Homo sapiens: one gene and its partners. The protein of the gene in region 1 interacts with the protein of each later gene in a pairwise test. Each region holds a gene or a part of one and is shown on either strand. Other genes may lie near its edges.

What was found.
Region 2: the proteins of ANKHD1 (region 1) and RBFOX2 interact in a two-hybrid assay, tested with the Homo sapiens proteins (one large-scale study listed by BioGRID).
Region 3: the proteins of ANKHD1 (region 1) and BDNF interact in binary tests that used the Homo sapiens proteins (3 or more experiments, as listed by UniProt).
Region 4: the proteins of ANKHD1 (region 1) and NOD2 interact in binary tests that used the Homo sapiens proteins (3 or more experiments, as listed by UniProt).

What each region holds. Positions count from the first base shown.
Region 1 is NC_000005.10:140,407,480-140,412,714, reverse strand, and holds part of ANKHD1 (ankyrin repeat and KH domain-containing protein 1), read right to left. Parts: intron 1-5,235. UniProt on the Homo sapiens protein: May play a role as a scaffolding protein that may be associated with the abnormal phenotype of leukemia cells. Isoform 2 may possess an antiapoptotic effect and protect cells during normal cell survival through its regulation of caspases.
Region 2 is NC_000022.11:35,808,825-35,812,324, forward strand, and holds part of RBFOX2 (RNA binding protein fox-1 homolog 2), read right to left. Parts: intron 1,181-3,500; coding exon 956-1,180; intron 1-955. UniProt on the Homo sapiens protein: RNA-binding protein that regulates alternative splicing events by binding to 5'-UGCAUGU-3' elements. Prevents binding of U2AF2 to the 3'-splice site.
Region 3 is NC_000011.10:27,655,456-27,658,955, forward strand, and holds part of BDNF (neurotrophic factor BDNF precursor form isoform a preproprotein), read right to left. Parts: exon of another isoform or gene 3,131-3,500; coding exon of another isoform or gene 3,110-3,130; coding exon 2,366-3,109; 3' UTR 1-2,365. UniProt on the Homo sapiens protein: Important signaling molecule that activates signaling cascades downstream of NTRK2. During development, promotes the survival and differentiation of selected neuronal populations of the peripheral and central nervous systems.
Region 4 is NC_000016.10:50,714,106-50,717,605, reverse strand, and holds part of NOD2 (nucleotide-binding oligomerization domain-containing protein 2), read right to left. Parts: intron 2,599-3,500; coding exon of another isoform or gene 2,598-2,598; exon of another isoform or gene 2,125-2,597; intron 1,998-2,124; exon of another isoform or gene 1,851-1,997; intron 1,020-1,850; coding exon 936-1,019; intron 716-935; coding exon 632-715; intron 1-631. UniProt on the Homo sapiens protein: Pattern recognition receptor (PRR) that detects bacterial peptidoglycan fragments and other danger signals and plays an important role in gastrointestinal immunity.

The DNA.
Region 1 (5,235 bases):
ATAATTGGAATATAACAATATTGTAAAACAAATATTTCCCATATTGGCAAAGCTGCAAAGTTGGGCATATGCCTTTCTATTTCAATGGTTTTAATTATTTCTTAATCCTTTTTAAATGAATAATGAAAGACCTGAACTTTCCAATTAAGTTCATTACAAAATTTCTTTAGAATAGTGCTCCCCCTATACTCTAGTGGTACACTCTCTTATGCTGATCTACATGACAGTAATTTCATTAAAAAATATAAAACTTTTCCGGCCAGGCGTGGTAGCTCATGCCTGTAATCTTGGCCCTCTGGGAGGCCACTGCAGGAGGATCCCTTGAGCTCAGGAGTTTGAGACCAGCCTGGACAACATAATGAGACCTTGTAACTACAAAAAAAATAGCCGGGCACGGTGGCTCACGCCTGTAATCGCAGCACTTTGGGAGGTGGGCAGATCACAAGGTCAGGAGTTTGAGACCAGCGTGGTCAACATGGTGAAACCCCATCTCTACTAAAAATACAACAAATTAGCGGGGCATGGTGGCACGCACCTGTAATCCTAGCTACTTGGGAGGCTAAGGCAGGAGAATTGCCTGAACCCAGGAGGCGGAGGTTGCAGTGAGCTGAGATCCGCCACTGCACTCCAGCCTGGGCAACTAAGACTGTGTGTCGGAAAAAATTAATTAATTAAATTTAATTTAAAAATTAGCAGGGTACGGTGGTGTGCGCCTGTGGTCCCAGACACTTGGGAGGCTGAAAGGGGAGGATCGCTTGAGCCCAGAAGGTCAAGGCTGCCTGAGCCGTGATTGCGCCATACGATCGTGAGCCACTGCACTCCTGCACCACCGCACTCCAGCTTGGGTGACATAACGGGACCCTGTCTCAAAAAAAAAAAAATTTAAAAAAAGGCCAGGCACAGTGGCTCAAGCCTATAATCCCAGCACTTTGGGAGGCTGAGGTGGGCAGATAGTCTGAGGTCAGGAGTTCGAGACCAGCCTGGCCAACATGGTGAAACCCCATCTCTACTAAAAATACAAAAAAAAATTAGCTGGGTATGGTGGTGGCCGCCTATAATCCCAGCTACTCAGGAGGCTGAGGCAGGAGAATTGCTTGAACTCGGGAGGCAGAGGTTGCAGTGAGCCAAGATTGCACCATTACACTCCAGCCTGGGCAACAGAGTGAGACTCCGTTCTCAAACAAACCAAAAAAAAAACAGCCAAAAAAAAAAAAAAACTTTTCCAACAAGATCAACTATGGATTATAAACTATAATAGTTTGAAAGAGGCATTTATAAGCAACTAATTAAACTCATTAATATAATGCATCAAAAGAAAGTTAGGAGAATCTGGAAGGTAGGATAACTAGAATGGGAATCAGATGGCCTATTTTTCAGTCTTGACTGCTACATATTAACTGTGTGATCTGGGCAAGTCATTTAGCTCAACAGTTCCCAGACTTCTGAGGCTTTTATCCAGGGTCCCAAATGAAGTTTCCAGTTGATATTCTGTTAAGTACAGATAGTTTTAAAAATTCATTTTGTAAAAGTAGGAAGAGTATTTGTCAAAATAGAAAAAAGTGGGAAAAAATAGCTTCATTAGAAATTCACTACATCCTGCTTATTTTCTCCATTTTACTTTACATCTGTGAAAACTTCAATAGGAACTAAACAATGATTTATTTAAAAAACAGCATTTGGTAACCAAAAACTACATATTTCTTAATTTGAAGCAAAATAACAGTATGGGCTCTAAATTCAGTATCACATTCAAATCCCACCTTTACCAGTCACTAGCCATATAACATTTTAACCATTTTTTTGTTTTTTAGATTCATTACTCTAAAAACTCTCTGAGCCTACACTTATTCATCTATAAAAATGTAGATAATACCTACCTCAAAGGGGTGATGAAACGATTAAATAAAATAACGAAAGTATCTAGTACGGTACTGGTATATAATAAGCATTCAATAAATGGTAGCAGTTACCTAAAAATGAGATGAGATAGGATTATCACCAAGATTCTATGACTCTATAGACAAGCAATAGGAGAGGGAAATGTGATCAATAAGGTCTGTGAAGACAGATACATTGAAACAGTTCCTTTATAGTGGGTTTAAAAAAAGAATTGATTTTATTTATTACAACTTTAGTTCTGAGAAAGTAAATTTGGCCAAAAAAAAAAATTTGGTAAACTTGTCATTTATTTTGTTTACTTGCCAATTCAAGGCTAAAACTGTTTAAAACTGTTTTGCTTTTCTTTAAAGTAACATATTTTATTTATATTAGTGATCACTGAATCAGAAGGCCAGAACTGATTTTGAATTCATCTAGTCAATCAGCACTCTACTAACAAATAGACTCAGAAAGGAATGTGCTTAAACTCACCTCCATCCTTCATTCATAACATAATTTATCACTTTAATTTTTTAAAAAAGTCTAAATCCTTCTCAAATTTACCATTTAAAAATTTCACATAAATAGCATCTTACCATCTGTGTAACAGTAGGGAAAATACACATAGTTGTATTTTCATAAAGAAATTCTGAAAGGCTATATAATACTTTTATTAAAAGTATAAAGAGCAAGATATGTGGGAGCAGGGTGAGATTGAGACTTCACTGTATCTGCCCTTATATTACTTTGACTTATGAACTATATGAATGTAATTATCTATTGAAAATATACTAATAACAACAAAAACCTCTCATACTTAAAGTTTCCCAAAAAGTTTTCCTCCACCCATACTAATCAACTCTGCATCAACCCCACCATTCACATAAATATACTTATCAATGCATCATTTTATATGTAAAGTCTTAAGGCTTTACATCATGAAGCTTGTGAAAGGTTGATATTTGTGCAACATACAAAAAATTGTGGCTGGGCGCGGTGGCTCACACCTGTAATCCCAGCACTTTGGGAGGCTGAGGCGGGTGGATCACAAGGTCAGGAGACCGAGACCATCCTGGGTAACACAGTGAAACACCGTCTCTACTAAAAATACAAAAAATTAGCCGAGCGTGGTGGCACGGGCCTGTAGTCCCAGCTACTCAGGAGGCTGAGGCAGGAGAATCACTTGAACCCAGGAGGTGGAGGCTGCAGTGAGCCGAGATCCTGCCACTGCACTCCAGCCTGGGTGACAGAGCAAGGCTCCTCTGACTCAAAAAAAAAAAAAAAAAATTGTTACAGTAATAACATATAATTCTTTTTATTCAATAAGCATTTCCAAAGTCTCCAAAATTAGCCCACTAGAATACAAAGTTATATTTCCTATGTTATCACTACAAATGATAATTTATGGAATAAAGCATTTCTACTTTGAACAAACTGGAAGTCCCCATAAAAGTTTTTTAAAAATTCATTTTCATGGACAACTGAACTTTTTGAAAAATAATATATTTTAAGTGAAAGTTCCCCAAAATGATACATTTACCATAGAAAATTTACAGCAGTGCATGCTAGTTTTATATTAAACCTTTCAGTACCTTCTATTTCTCCCTTGTTCAGGTTATAAGCATAAGTCCTGAAATGCTATTAAAAGCAGTGACTCACCTTGTTTACCTTAAGTTTGAATACAGAGTATAACAAAACTACCATTCCTGACAAGAGTGGCCTCTAGACCGGTAGCTCTCAACCAGGAGTGATTTTGTCCCTAGGAGACATTTGGCAACGTCTGAACAATTTTTGGCTATCATAATCGGGTTCTACTGGCATCTAGTGGGTAGAGGCCAGGGATGCTTCTAATGCACAGGAGAGCCCCTCACAACAAAGAATTCTCTGTCCCAAAATGTCTATATGTTGCTCTTGAGAAACTGCTCTAGATTATAGATCATACTAGCCAAGTATTGTGGTGCACACCTATAGTCCCCTGTAGTCCTGACTACTTGGGAGGCTGAAGCAGAAGGATTGCTTGAGCCCAGGAGTGGGAGACCACATAGAGTTATGACCATGCCACCGCACTGTGTAGCCAGGGCAACAGCCAGCCTGGGCAAAAAAGCGAGACCCCCATCTCTCAAAACACATAACGGTAAAAAAAATTTAATTAAAAATTAAAAAACAGATTATATATAGATCATAAACAATCTTAAAGGATATGACCCAACTCCTTACCTACTGGAGAAAATCAGGATGGGATTTCTGTATGACTTTTGCTTTTGATGTTAAAAGTAATTTTCAGGGAAAAAGGAATCCCTACAAAGCTTGTGCTATATTTTCAGAGCTAAATACAATTTCTGCGTGCTTTTATATAATTGTAAATACAGCACCTGCTTCAAGAAAAAAACCTCAGTGTGATATAAAGCTACACTTTTAAATTTGATATGCCTTTAAAGTATGTGTATATGAACATATATACATATATACATAGAAAGATAGGCCTAGAAAATTTACTGAATGAAAAATTTTAATATTGGTTACCTTGAAGGGTAGAATTTGAAGAATTAATGGGGGTGGGAAGAAGCACTTTTACTTTTCCCCTTATACCTACTATCTATATTGTTGAGTTTTTCAACAAGTAACTATTTTGTAATAATTTTATTATTTTCTAATTTTTTGAGATGGAGTCTTGCTCTGTTACCCAGACTGGAGTGCACTGGTATGATCTTGGCTGACTGCAGCCTCCGTCTCCCGGGTTCAAGAGATTCTCCTGCCTCAGCCTCCCAAGTGGCTAGGATTACAGGCGCCTGCCACCATACCCAGCTAATTTTTGTATTTTTAGTAGAGACAGGCTTTCACCATGTTGGCCAGGCTGGTCTCAAACTCCTGACCTCAGATGATCCATCCGCTTTGGCCTCCCAAAGTGGTGGGATTACAGGCGTGAGCCACCGCGCCCGGCCACTTTTGTAATAATTTTAAAAGAGGGCCGTCACACACACACATACACACACAAACACACATATACACACACATTCATTCTTACGACAAAAATTGAAAACCATGTCTCACACAATCTTTTCTTTAGAAACTGTATTTTTATTTCGATTTGCTAAAAAAATTAAAAGACCACAATTCTAAAATTAAAATTTAAAAATTGGTTTTTCGGTCAGGCACAGTGGCTTACAACTTGTAATCTCTGCATTTTTGGAGGCCCAGGCAGAAGGATCCCTTGAGGCCAGGAGTTCAAGACTAGCCTGGGCAACATTTTTTTTTTTTTAAATCAGGTGGAGTGGTGGAGTACACCTCTAGTTAGACCTAGCTCTTTGGGAGGCTGAGGCAGTAGGATTGCTTGAGCCCAGGAATTCGAGGTTGCAG
Region 2 (3,500 bases), on another chromosome or scaffold:
CCTGGACAACAAAGCAAGAGACAATACAATTTCCCATATGTTGGTATGTATGAGATATATACCTATTATTAATTTATGACATTTCCTTTACTTTAGCAAGTTAGTAGTAAGAGGTGAAGTCAAAGAGGTAAGCTGGGGCTAGAGACTAGTAAACCAAGTACGGAGTTCAGATTATATTCTAATTGCATTAGGGAACTATTAAGAGTTAAGTAGGAAATCGGCATTTGCATTAAAAAAAAAAAAAAACCACCTTAGTCCTATGTGGAGGATAGATAAGTTAGGCAACAGTAATACCGGAAATAAGTGATGAGGTTTGGACTAGAGCAGTGATGATGATAAATTCTTTTAAATTTCCTAACAGCCTCTTCAGGTAGGTACTATTATCTTCATTTTAGAGTGAGCCAAGGGCAGAGAGATTAAATAACTGGTCCAAGGTCACACAGTTTAGTAGGGGCCATATTGAGATTCAAACACAAGCAATTTGGTGGAAGAGTAATAAGATGTAGAGAAGAAGACGAAGTAGTTTTAGAGTTATGGTTGTCAAGACTTGCTAATCAATTAGATGTACAGATGAAAGAAAGAAAGAAAGAATATTCCTAGGTTTTGCTTGAGTTTGGTAGTATAATTATGCAGAGAAAGGATATAAAATAAAAAGAAAAGGGGTTCCAGGACCTACATATGGAGTACTGCACCATTTAAAAGTTGAACAGAGAAGGAGGCAGGAGCAGAACACCCAGTGCTTGGCAGGAAAATTGGGAGAGCTCGAAAAGCCAAGAGACTAAGTATTTCTAGGAGGAGGGAGGACAATGTATACAATGCTGTTGAGAGAAGGTGTAAATGAGAACAGGTGTAAATGCTAAATTAATTCCGAGAGTCTTCTAATTGTATAATTAAGGCGACAATTTCTATATGATTGCCATGCATCCTTCCATTTTTCACCTCATGGTCCACGTACCGTAAGAGATCCATTTTGTGTGCTGGGTGAGTTGCTGCTCTGCTCCCCGTGGGCTTGCGTACTTCCGTAGAGTGTCAGGTTATGCTCACCGGTCTGGCCGGCATAGTCTTGAGTGTGTGGCACCCCATACTCTGTGGGAATTCCATTCTGCGGAGGTGGTGGAAATGGGATGGTAGTAAAAGGCTGAACCATTGCGTCAGGAGTTGTTGTCGGCTCCTGGTTACCCTAAAACAAACAACAAGAGAAAGAAAAAGTGACTTTGAATCCTTGTTACGTAACTATTTTTAAAGTGAGTATATGGAATTCTCTGAATATTCTCTCACTGCATAGGTAAAATGGAATGCTTATTGCTCCAGGATTGGAGAAAATATTATTACACATACACACATAGATATATGTATGTGGACAGACACACACACACACACACACACACACACACACACACTCACTTTTGTTAATGTGTAGTTACTAGACAGGCCCACAACCATATTTAAGTGGACTAGATGCCAAAGGGGCAAAAATCTTTCCTTTAAATTAAAAGTAGGTGGAGAGCCCACTTTGGACCACAAGCCACTACAGCCTATACCACAGAGAGAGACTCTGTCCCTAAAAAATACGAAAAACAAAAAAGAAAAATCAACTAGGAGAAAATATTAGCAAAAGGTAAGAGAGATGCTGGGTTATTATCACTAGTCCCAGAGTGGGTTAACCAAGTTGACAAGACAGACACACATGTACACACAAACACACACACATCCCAAGAGAAAAACAGGCAAACTGTGTATCTGAACAATTCATTGAAAATGAAATACAAACAACTAATAAAAATGCTCAACCTCACTAACTGTCACGAAAATTCACATTAACATCAAAGTAAGTCCAAGTCTTTAGTCATCAAATCAGCAAAAAAATTAAGCAGTTTTATTATGATATAACTGTCATATGATAAACAGCACTTATTTATTTACAGTATACAATTTGGTAAGTTTTGATATATGCACTTATATTCTCATGAAATCATCACCACAATCAAGATAGTCAACACATATATCCAAAACCCCCAAAAGTTTCCTTGTGCCCCAATAATAAACATATATTACTTTTGTAATAAAACCTATACAAATATATTGTTTTTAATACTAAAGAGAATGACAAAAAATATATCATCAATAAGGGGAAGCCAATATTCTGAAACACTGAATTACTGTGTTACTCTTAAGAGAATGGTAGTGACCTACCTTGAAACAAAAATTCATAACTCTCTTCCATTTAAAAGTTAAACAACTTCAAAATTCAGCTGTCTCCAATGTCCAAGAATCATTTCTACTTGGTAATAAAAACTGCTTTACACAATAGTGGTGAAAGAAAAAAGGCAGAGAATTGGGGGTGGGGGGCTGCCACAGTCTAGATAAAAAGTGATGAACTGATTACAGTTATCAGTGGGAAGGGGCAGAGTCATAGACTGAGTTGTGCTCAGTCTCCAACCCGTATGTTGAAGTTCTAACCCTCAGTACCTCAAAATGTCACTGTTTTTAAAGATAAGGTCTTTAAAAAGGTAATTAAAGTGATGTCATGAGGGTGGGCCTTAATCCAATTGGAGTGGTGTCCTTATAAGAAAAGGGAATGTGGATACAGACACATACAGAGGGAGGCCCATGTGAAGACACAGAGCATGACCATCTACAAGCCAACAAAAAAGACATCAGAAGAAACCAACCCTGCTGACACCCTGATCTTGCACTTCTAGCCTCCAGAATGGTAAGAAAATACATTGCTATATTGTTATGTAATACTTTCTTATGGCAGCCCTTGCAAACTGGTAAAGGCAGGAATGAAGATTCTGTAACAGAAATTAATAATAAAAATAAAAATAAATTGCTTTACATAAAAATTTTCCTGCTATTGGACATAATGGTTCATGCCCTTGTAATCCCAGCACTTTGGGAGGCTGAGATGGGAGGACTGCCTGCGGCTAGGAGTTCAAGATCAGCCTGGCCAACACAAAGAGACCCTGTCTCTAGAAAAACTTTAAAAAATTAGCTGGGCATGGTGGTATGTGTAGTCCCAGCTACTTGTGAGGCTGAGAAAGGAGGACTGCTTGAGCCCAGGAGCTGGAGGCTGCAGTGAGCCATGATTGCATCACCCTAGCCTGGGCAACAGAAAGACCACGTCTCTTAAGGGAAAAAAAAAAAAAAAAAAGGCTGGGTGTGGTGGCTCACTTCTGTAATCCCAGCACCTTGTGAGGCTGAGGCGGGCAGATCACTTGAGGTCAGGAGTTCAATACCAGCCTGGCCAACATGGTGAAACTCCATCCCTATTAAAAATACAAAAATTAGCCAAGCATGGTGCCAAATGCCTTTAATCTCAGATATCTTGGAAGCTGAGGCAGGAGAATCGCTTGAACTCAGGAGGAGGACATTGCAGTGAACTGACATCGCTGCCATTAAACTCTAGCCCGGGCAACAGAGTGAGTGAGACTCCATCTCAAAAGATAGAAAAAAAAAAAAACCCCTCTCTTTAGTTCTTAGAAAATATGTTATGAAAA
Region 3 (3,500 bases), on another chromosome or scaffold:
ATTTGTCCCTCAAAAGGAAGCTGCATAAAGTTGACATACAGCAGATATTCCAAGCATTCCTTACATATTAAAAATAATTACAAAGATAATATTTTCAAACAACACAAAACAAATCTACACTACGTAAAGTCTTCCTTCTTTCAAAGAGGTATTCAGATGGTACTGTGAAAGACTAGCTCTAAATGAAAGACTGAACAAATTGAAATTCTTTGCTGATGGTATCTTCATTCCTGGGTTATGGTGAACATCCTCTTTTGCTTATCCCTCACCCTACTAAGATGCAGCAATTGCTTGGGGCTTTCTGATACTTAAGGATGCTGGTCCAAGTGGTGATCACTAACATTTTCAGGTGTGAAATGGGCTGAATGGGCTTAGAGCTCTAGTTTTCACTGGGGATCCATTTTTCCAAGAACCACTATTTCAGGCTCCCAACTTGACTTCTCCTAACCCAAAATGGCAGAGGTGAGGCAGGGACCCTCTCCATGAACAGACAGGATGGGCAGAAGGTTGCTGTGGCCTTCACTGGGGAGCAAAATTTTGTCAGCTCTGTCCTGGCCTCTTCCATTGAGCAAGGCACCTTCAAGTCTTGGTGTTCTGAATGTCCAGACACCTTCCCGAAGTCTTGTCTCTGGACAAGATTTCCTATGGGTCCCCTTGATCATTCGGCCTGAGTTTGGGGTTTCTTTTCCTGTTCCCTTTTCCCTTACCAAAAGTTCTCAAAAGATAAACCCTGGTTTCCTCAAGTCTAGTTTCAAAGCAATAAGTGTTCAGGTAGCAAACATCTTCTATCTCATTGCATCAATCTCATGATCACAAATGCCACATTTGGCTCCCAACCTGCTCCAGGCTAATCCAATTTTATGCAAAATTATCCAGAGGTGGGATGGTGGGCATAAGTCGGCTTGAGTGTGGTCCTCCAGTCGAGAACCTCTTGAGCACAGTTAGATAATGTAGGCACTTAAAGCACGAGGTCCAAGCAGCTTGACACATGTCATTCCAGAGCCACCTCTGAAGGGTCCTTCAGAGGCCTTCGTTTTGGAATGTCTCAAATACCATGCCCCACCTCCACCTAGACCTTGGGATGGCCACTCAGAAATTCCTCCCGCACTGCCGGTAAATGCAATGCCAACTCCACATAGCCTCCATTTGGCTGTTCAGTCTCATGTCACTGGCAATGTGGATTCCTGTTCTGATCTAGGTGTTTCTGGGTTGATACAGGGCTCTACCTTTTGCTTACAAGACATTGTTAAGCCTCACCATGAGTTTTTTTTAAGCTTAGCCATGATTTACCCAAATGTTCACTCCTCATAAAAAATAATCTTCATTTTGGGGTTATTTTTTGTTGTTTTCTGTTCTAAAAAAAAATCACTGTTCTCCATGCTTATACGAGTGTCATGATGTGACACAATGTGTTCACTTGTTCACAGCAGTGGTAAAATATTTCAGAACGCGCAACTGATTTTTCTTCCTTAAAACAAAACAAAGAGGAGACCAGAGGGGGAGGGGGGGAAAGAATGTGTTCTGAGCAAACATAGGTCCTTCCGTCAAAAGCAGCTTACTCTGACCAACGCCCAAAGAATGAGCGGGGCCTGGGAGGTGCATCACGGGATGTGGAGTGTGAGCATTTTTTTGTTCAGTTGCCTTAATTTTTATTCACTTTCTAGTCATCTGATCGATATTGCAAACATCTTCACAACATACAAATGTATCTTTTATCAGCCAGAATATATATTGTAGGAATTCTTTCCCCATCTCTACTCCCTGTGGGAACTAAAAAACAAAACAAACAAACGAAAAAAAAACACAAAACAAACAAAAATATACCCCCCATCCCCCATCCCCTAAGCCAGTAAAGCAATGACAACAGCACCTTGACATTGTTTTAATTCCAACGCTATCAGAAGTTAAAAGCAGTAAAACAGATATAGTACTAACAAGAACGAAGATACTTACTGTCTAAAATGTAAACGGAATGTTTTGGTTCAAATTTTTGTTGTGTGTGTGTGTGTTTTTTTTCTGTTTTCTGAAAGAGGACAGTTTATTATCAATTCACAATTAAAGCAGCATGCAATTTATTATTTTTTTTAACTTTTTATGTTTTCAGTTCTTGGCAACGGCAACAAACCACAACATTATCAAGGAATGTAATGCAGACTTTTTAAGTTGTGCGCAAATGACTGTTTCCCTTCTGGTCATGGACATGTCCAATAAATAGATTGTAGAACCACTGTACTGTATAAACTTCATTTATACATGCAGTTCATAAAATTATTTTTTTCTTAACTGAATAATTTACCCTGTTATGTATATATACAAATAGATAATTTTTGTCTCAATATAATCTAATCTATACAACATAAATCCACTATCTTCCCCTTTTAATGGTCAATGTACATACACAAGAAGTGTCTATCCTTATGAATCGCCAGCCAATTCTCTTTTTGCTATCCATGGTAAGGGCCCGCACGTACGACTGGGTAGTTCGGCACTGGGAGTTCCAATGCCTTTTGTCTATGCCCCTGCAGCCTTCTTTTGTGTAACCCATGGGATTGCACTTGGTCTCGTAGAAGTATTGCTTCAGTTGGCCTTTTGATACAGGGACCTTTTCAAGGACTGTGACCGTCCCGCCCGACATGTCCACTGCAGTCTTTTTGTCTGCCGCCGTTACCCACTCACTAATACTGTCACACACGCTCAGCTCCCCTCGGCGGGCAGGGTCAGAGTGGCGCCGGACCCTCATGGACATGTTTGCAGCATCTAGGTAATTTTTGTATTCCTCCAGCAGAAAGAGAAGAGGAGGCTCCAAAGGCACTTGACTACTGAGCATCACCCTGGACGTGTACAAGTCTGCGTCCTTATTGTTTTCTTCATTGGGCCGAACTTTCTGGTCCTCATCCAACAGCTCTTCTATCACGTGTTCGAAAGTGTCAGCCAATGATGTCAAGCCTCTTGAACCTGCCTTGGGCCCATTCACGCTCTCCAGAGTCCCATGGGTCCGCACACCTGGGTAGGCCAAGCCACCTTGTCCTCGGATGTTTGCTTCTTTCATGGGGGCAGCCTTCATGCAACCAAAGTATGAAATAACCATAGTAAGGAAAAGGATGGTCATCACTCTTCTCACCTGGTGGAACTGTAGGGAGAAAGCAGAAACAAGACAGAAAACTGGTTAGGGCTTTCTTTCACCGGGATGCCATGTGGCCCATCTGATTGTAATTCCAGGCCATTCTGCAGGGTCAAGGTTTTTTTATGTCTTGGTGATAAACTCCAGCTGCACCAGACACAAATCAGTGTCAGTAGTGTGCTGTATGTGGTTTAATATAAACCAGAGACATGCAGTGTTTCCCCCAAGATCTAGCATATAAACCTGAGATTAGATGGCTTCTAAGCAAGTGCAAAAATTGTGGCTTCAAGTTCTCCTTCTTCCCACTTTAGCAGCTTTGTAAGTTTAATTTTTAATGATCTCTGCTCATGCTGTCACGAGAAACACAAAATCATAAATG
Region 4 (3,500 bases), on another chromosome or scaffold:
AAGCAATTCTTTACTTTGTCTTTTTTTACTGCCTCACAAATCACAGGAGGCAAGAATATCTGAGAGAGAGAGAAGGAGAGAGAAGCCAGGCCAACCCAGCGGCCAGCTAGAGGGGCAATTTAAAGGCATCAGGTAGGAGAGAGAGAGACTCCTGTTGAAACTGGGAGACACTGGAGTAGCAGAAATGCAGAACCAGATGGACTGCAAACCTTGCATGCTCTGAGTGGTGAAAGGACCTCCTGGGAGTGTTGCAGCAACTCGCTGCCACAGCTGGGGTGGCAAGTAACTGTGTATGCCTCCCCCACCAGGACGAGCTCAACATGCATCGTGGAACTCAGTAAACCCAGAAAGCTGTGACACTCTTAGACACAGAAAAGGAAAGGGGCCTAGAAAAGCTTTCTTGCCCTACGGGCTAAAGGTCAAAAGACAGGAAGTCCTCAGCAGAGCTAGTCCAGAGTTTACTGGGGAGATCACAGCATTAGAGAACCCCTGCTTAAAATGAGACACTGTCCCTGCATTCAATCAGGAGGTCAGGAGCCAGTGTGGGCAGTGCCAGGCCAAGACCAGATCAGACTGACTCAGGAATGGGGCAAAAAATAGTTTCCAGGGAATAAGGAAAACCTGGGCTCACCTCAATGCCAAGAAGTTCTGCCTGCATGCAAGGAGCTTAGCCATGGAGTGTGCACAGCCGTCAGTCAATTTGTTGTTGAATAGACTGTTCAGTTCCAGAAGAGAGGAGACACAGAAGCAAAGCACATTGGACAGTGAGCACCAAATCCCAGGGTTGCCCTTCCCCTCTGGGCAGGAATCACCTGCACCCCCCATCATGCAAACAGCCCCTGCCCCAGCCCATCACTCACAGCTTCCCAGGCTGCACGACCTGGGGTGAGACCAGGGCACTTGGAGCCCATTGTCCACAGCCCAGGCTGACTTACGCTAACTTCTGCAATTGCTCGCAGTGAAGAGCACATTCAATGAGCTTGCAGATGCCTCGGTCTGAGATATTGTTATCGCGCAAACTAAAGAGACAAAATAAATACATTTGAAAATGGAGCTAGTAAGACAAGAAAAAAATCTACAAATCCCCCAAAAAGACTTTCATTCATCCCTGAAGTGCCAGCATCTGTGCTTCCAGGAAACCCTGCATAGATGGAGCACCCCAAAAAAGTGGAGACCCCACGGTCCCTGGCCAGGGAGGTGACGTGGTGCACTATGATGGGGATGGCCCAGGACGTAGGATCCAGACCCCCTACTAAAGAACCCTGGAATCCTTAGGAAATGACAGAGCTAATTTGAGGCAATGTTTCCATCTCTGCAAAAGGAACATGATAATCACAGCAGCCTCACAAAGGGGATGATGGTGGAAAGGAGCTGATATATGCGAAAGGTGCAGCCTGAACTAGACAGGCTACCCCTGGGGACAATTTACCATCATCTAGGTCAGCAGACAGTAGACCAGCTGGATGAGAGTGGCCAAAACTTCAGAAACAGGCATATAGGCTGTGGTTAGTGAGGCCCTGCTGCCCAGTCCTTAACCCCAATGGCACCACTCCAACAGGCTAGTCCCTGCCGAGCAAGCCCTGTCTGCCACTCCTCTTGGGGCACCATTCCCAAAACTCACCTGATCACAACATCATCTGAAAGCTTCCCTAAAAGACAGATTCTCAGGCCCATACCCTGGAGCTGGCAATCAAGTATCTGCGGGGTGGGGCCCAGGAATCTGTATATTTTAACAACTGTGCACATGATTCTTTATCTTTAGGCAAACTTGGGAGGCCCTGACTGAATGGTTAACAGCTCAGGCTCTGGAGTGCCTCAGCTGGATATTGTGATCCTGATCAGCGACTTACTAGTTATTTGCTGGTCTCTTCATCTATAAAAGAGGGAACAGGCCGGGCACGGTGGCTCACGCCTGTAATCCCAGCACTTTGGGAGGCCGAGGCGGGCGGATCACGAGGTCAGGAGATCGAGACCATCCTGGTTAACACAGTGAAACCCTGTCGCTACCAAAAATACAAAAAAATTAGCCGGGCGTGGTGGCAGGCGCCTGTAGTCCCAGCTACTTGGGAGGCTGAGGCAGGAGAATGGCGTGAACCCGGGAGGCAGAGCTTGCATGAGCCGAGATTGTGCCACTGTACCCCCTGCCTGGGCAACAGAACGAGACTCCGTCTCAAAAAAAAAAAAAGAGGGAACAATAGTATTATCAGCCTCACCAGGCTGTGCACATAAAGCCTTGTGAGCACCCGGTACACAGTAAAAGTCACCTAGAATCATGATCGCTAGCACTGATCACTACCCTTACCACTTCTCAATAATAACACTATTTCATCCTCACAACAAGCCAGTGAAATGGGAACCATTATTATGAGCATTCGTGAGAAAGAAACTGAGGCACAGACAAGCGAAGTGACTTTGCCAAGGTTGTACGGCACATAAAGGCTTTGAGCCTAGGCGGCTTGGCTCCAAACCCCACTCTTAACCATGACATTGTGCAGCTTCTCCCTCAGGGCCTCTTATGGCCACTTCTGTAGTGCAGTGATTTTTCAGACTGCAGGTTGCAGGTCATGCAAATCATTTTGAAGGTCCTGAGCAGCATTTCTAAAATGGAAATAGAACAGAACAGAAGAGAGCAGAGTGTCTCAGAGTTCATAAAGCGAAGTCATTTTGTGAAACTTAGGTTCCATGTTTACATGGTGGTGCGTGCTCTCTCTCTCTCTTTCTCAATCATTGTGGGTAACATTCAAAAAACTTTTAAAGCCATCACTCTAGAGTCTGAGAGAGCCAGAGTCTAAAGAAACCTATATAGGGGCACTGTGTATATAGGGTTTCCTAGAGGCTGAGGATTTCAGTTGGCATGGAAACACTTCAAGTGGGAGAGAGGCAGGTTGGCACTGTGGGAGAGGAGCCTGTGCCCTCCCCCTTCCTCCCTTCCTCTCTTTCTCAATCTCTCTCTCTCTCTCATACACACACACACACACACACACACACACACACACACACACAGTGCACTCACAGCAACCTCATGGTTGCTTCCCCTCCCCTACGGCCTTGGCAGTTTTAGTGTGTGTAAGGTGAAGAGCAGTAAAACTCGCTCAAGGACAGTAATTGCTAATGGAAAACCAAGCTGGTTGCTGCAGACCAGTAGTTCTCCCAGGGCGAGACCACTTGTATCAGAATCACCAGGGGTGTCTGTGAAAAATATAGATTTCCTGGGCCCCACCCCAAACCTACTGAATGGGAATCACTAGAGGCAGGCCCAGGAATCTGCATTGCCACGAGTGCCTTTACACACCACAGTCTGAGCACCATGAGCTAGAACCAGGCCACCCTCACCTTTCTCTGAACACAGAGACAGACCCACAGGTTTCCCAGAGCCCTTCTGCACACCCTGGTAATCACGGGGACATCCCTAATCAAGGATGGATGATCCATTCAAGAATTCCAGAGATGGACTGGCCTATGAGGATCACACAGGCCAGTGATGCCTGGCCTCTTGGGGT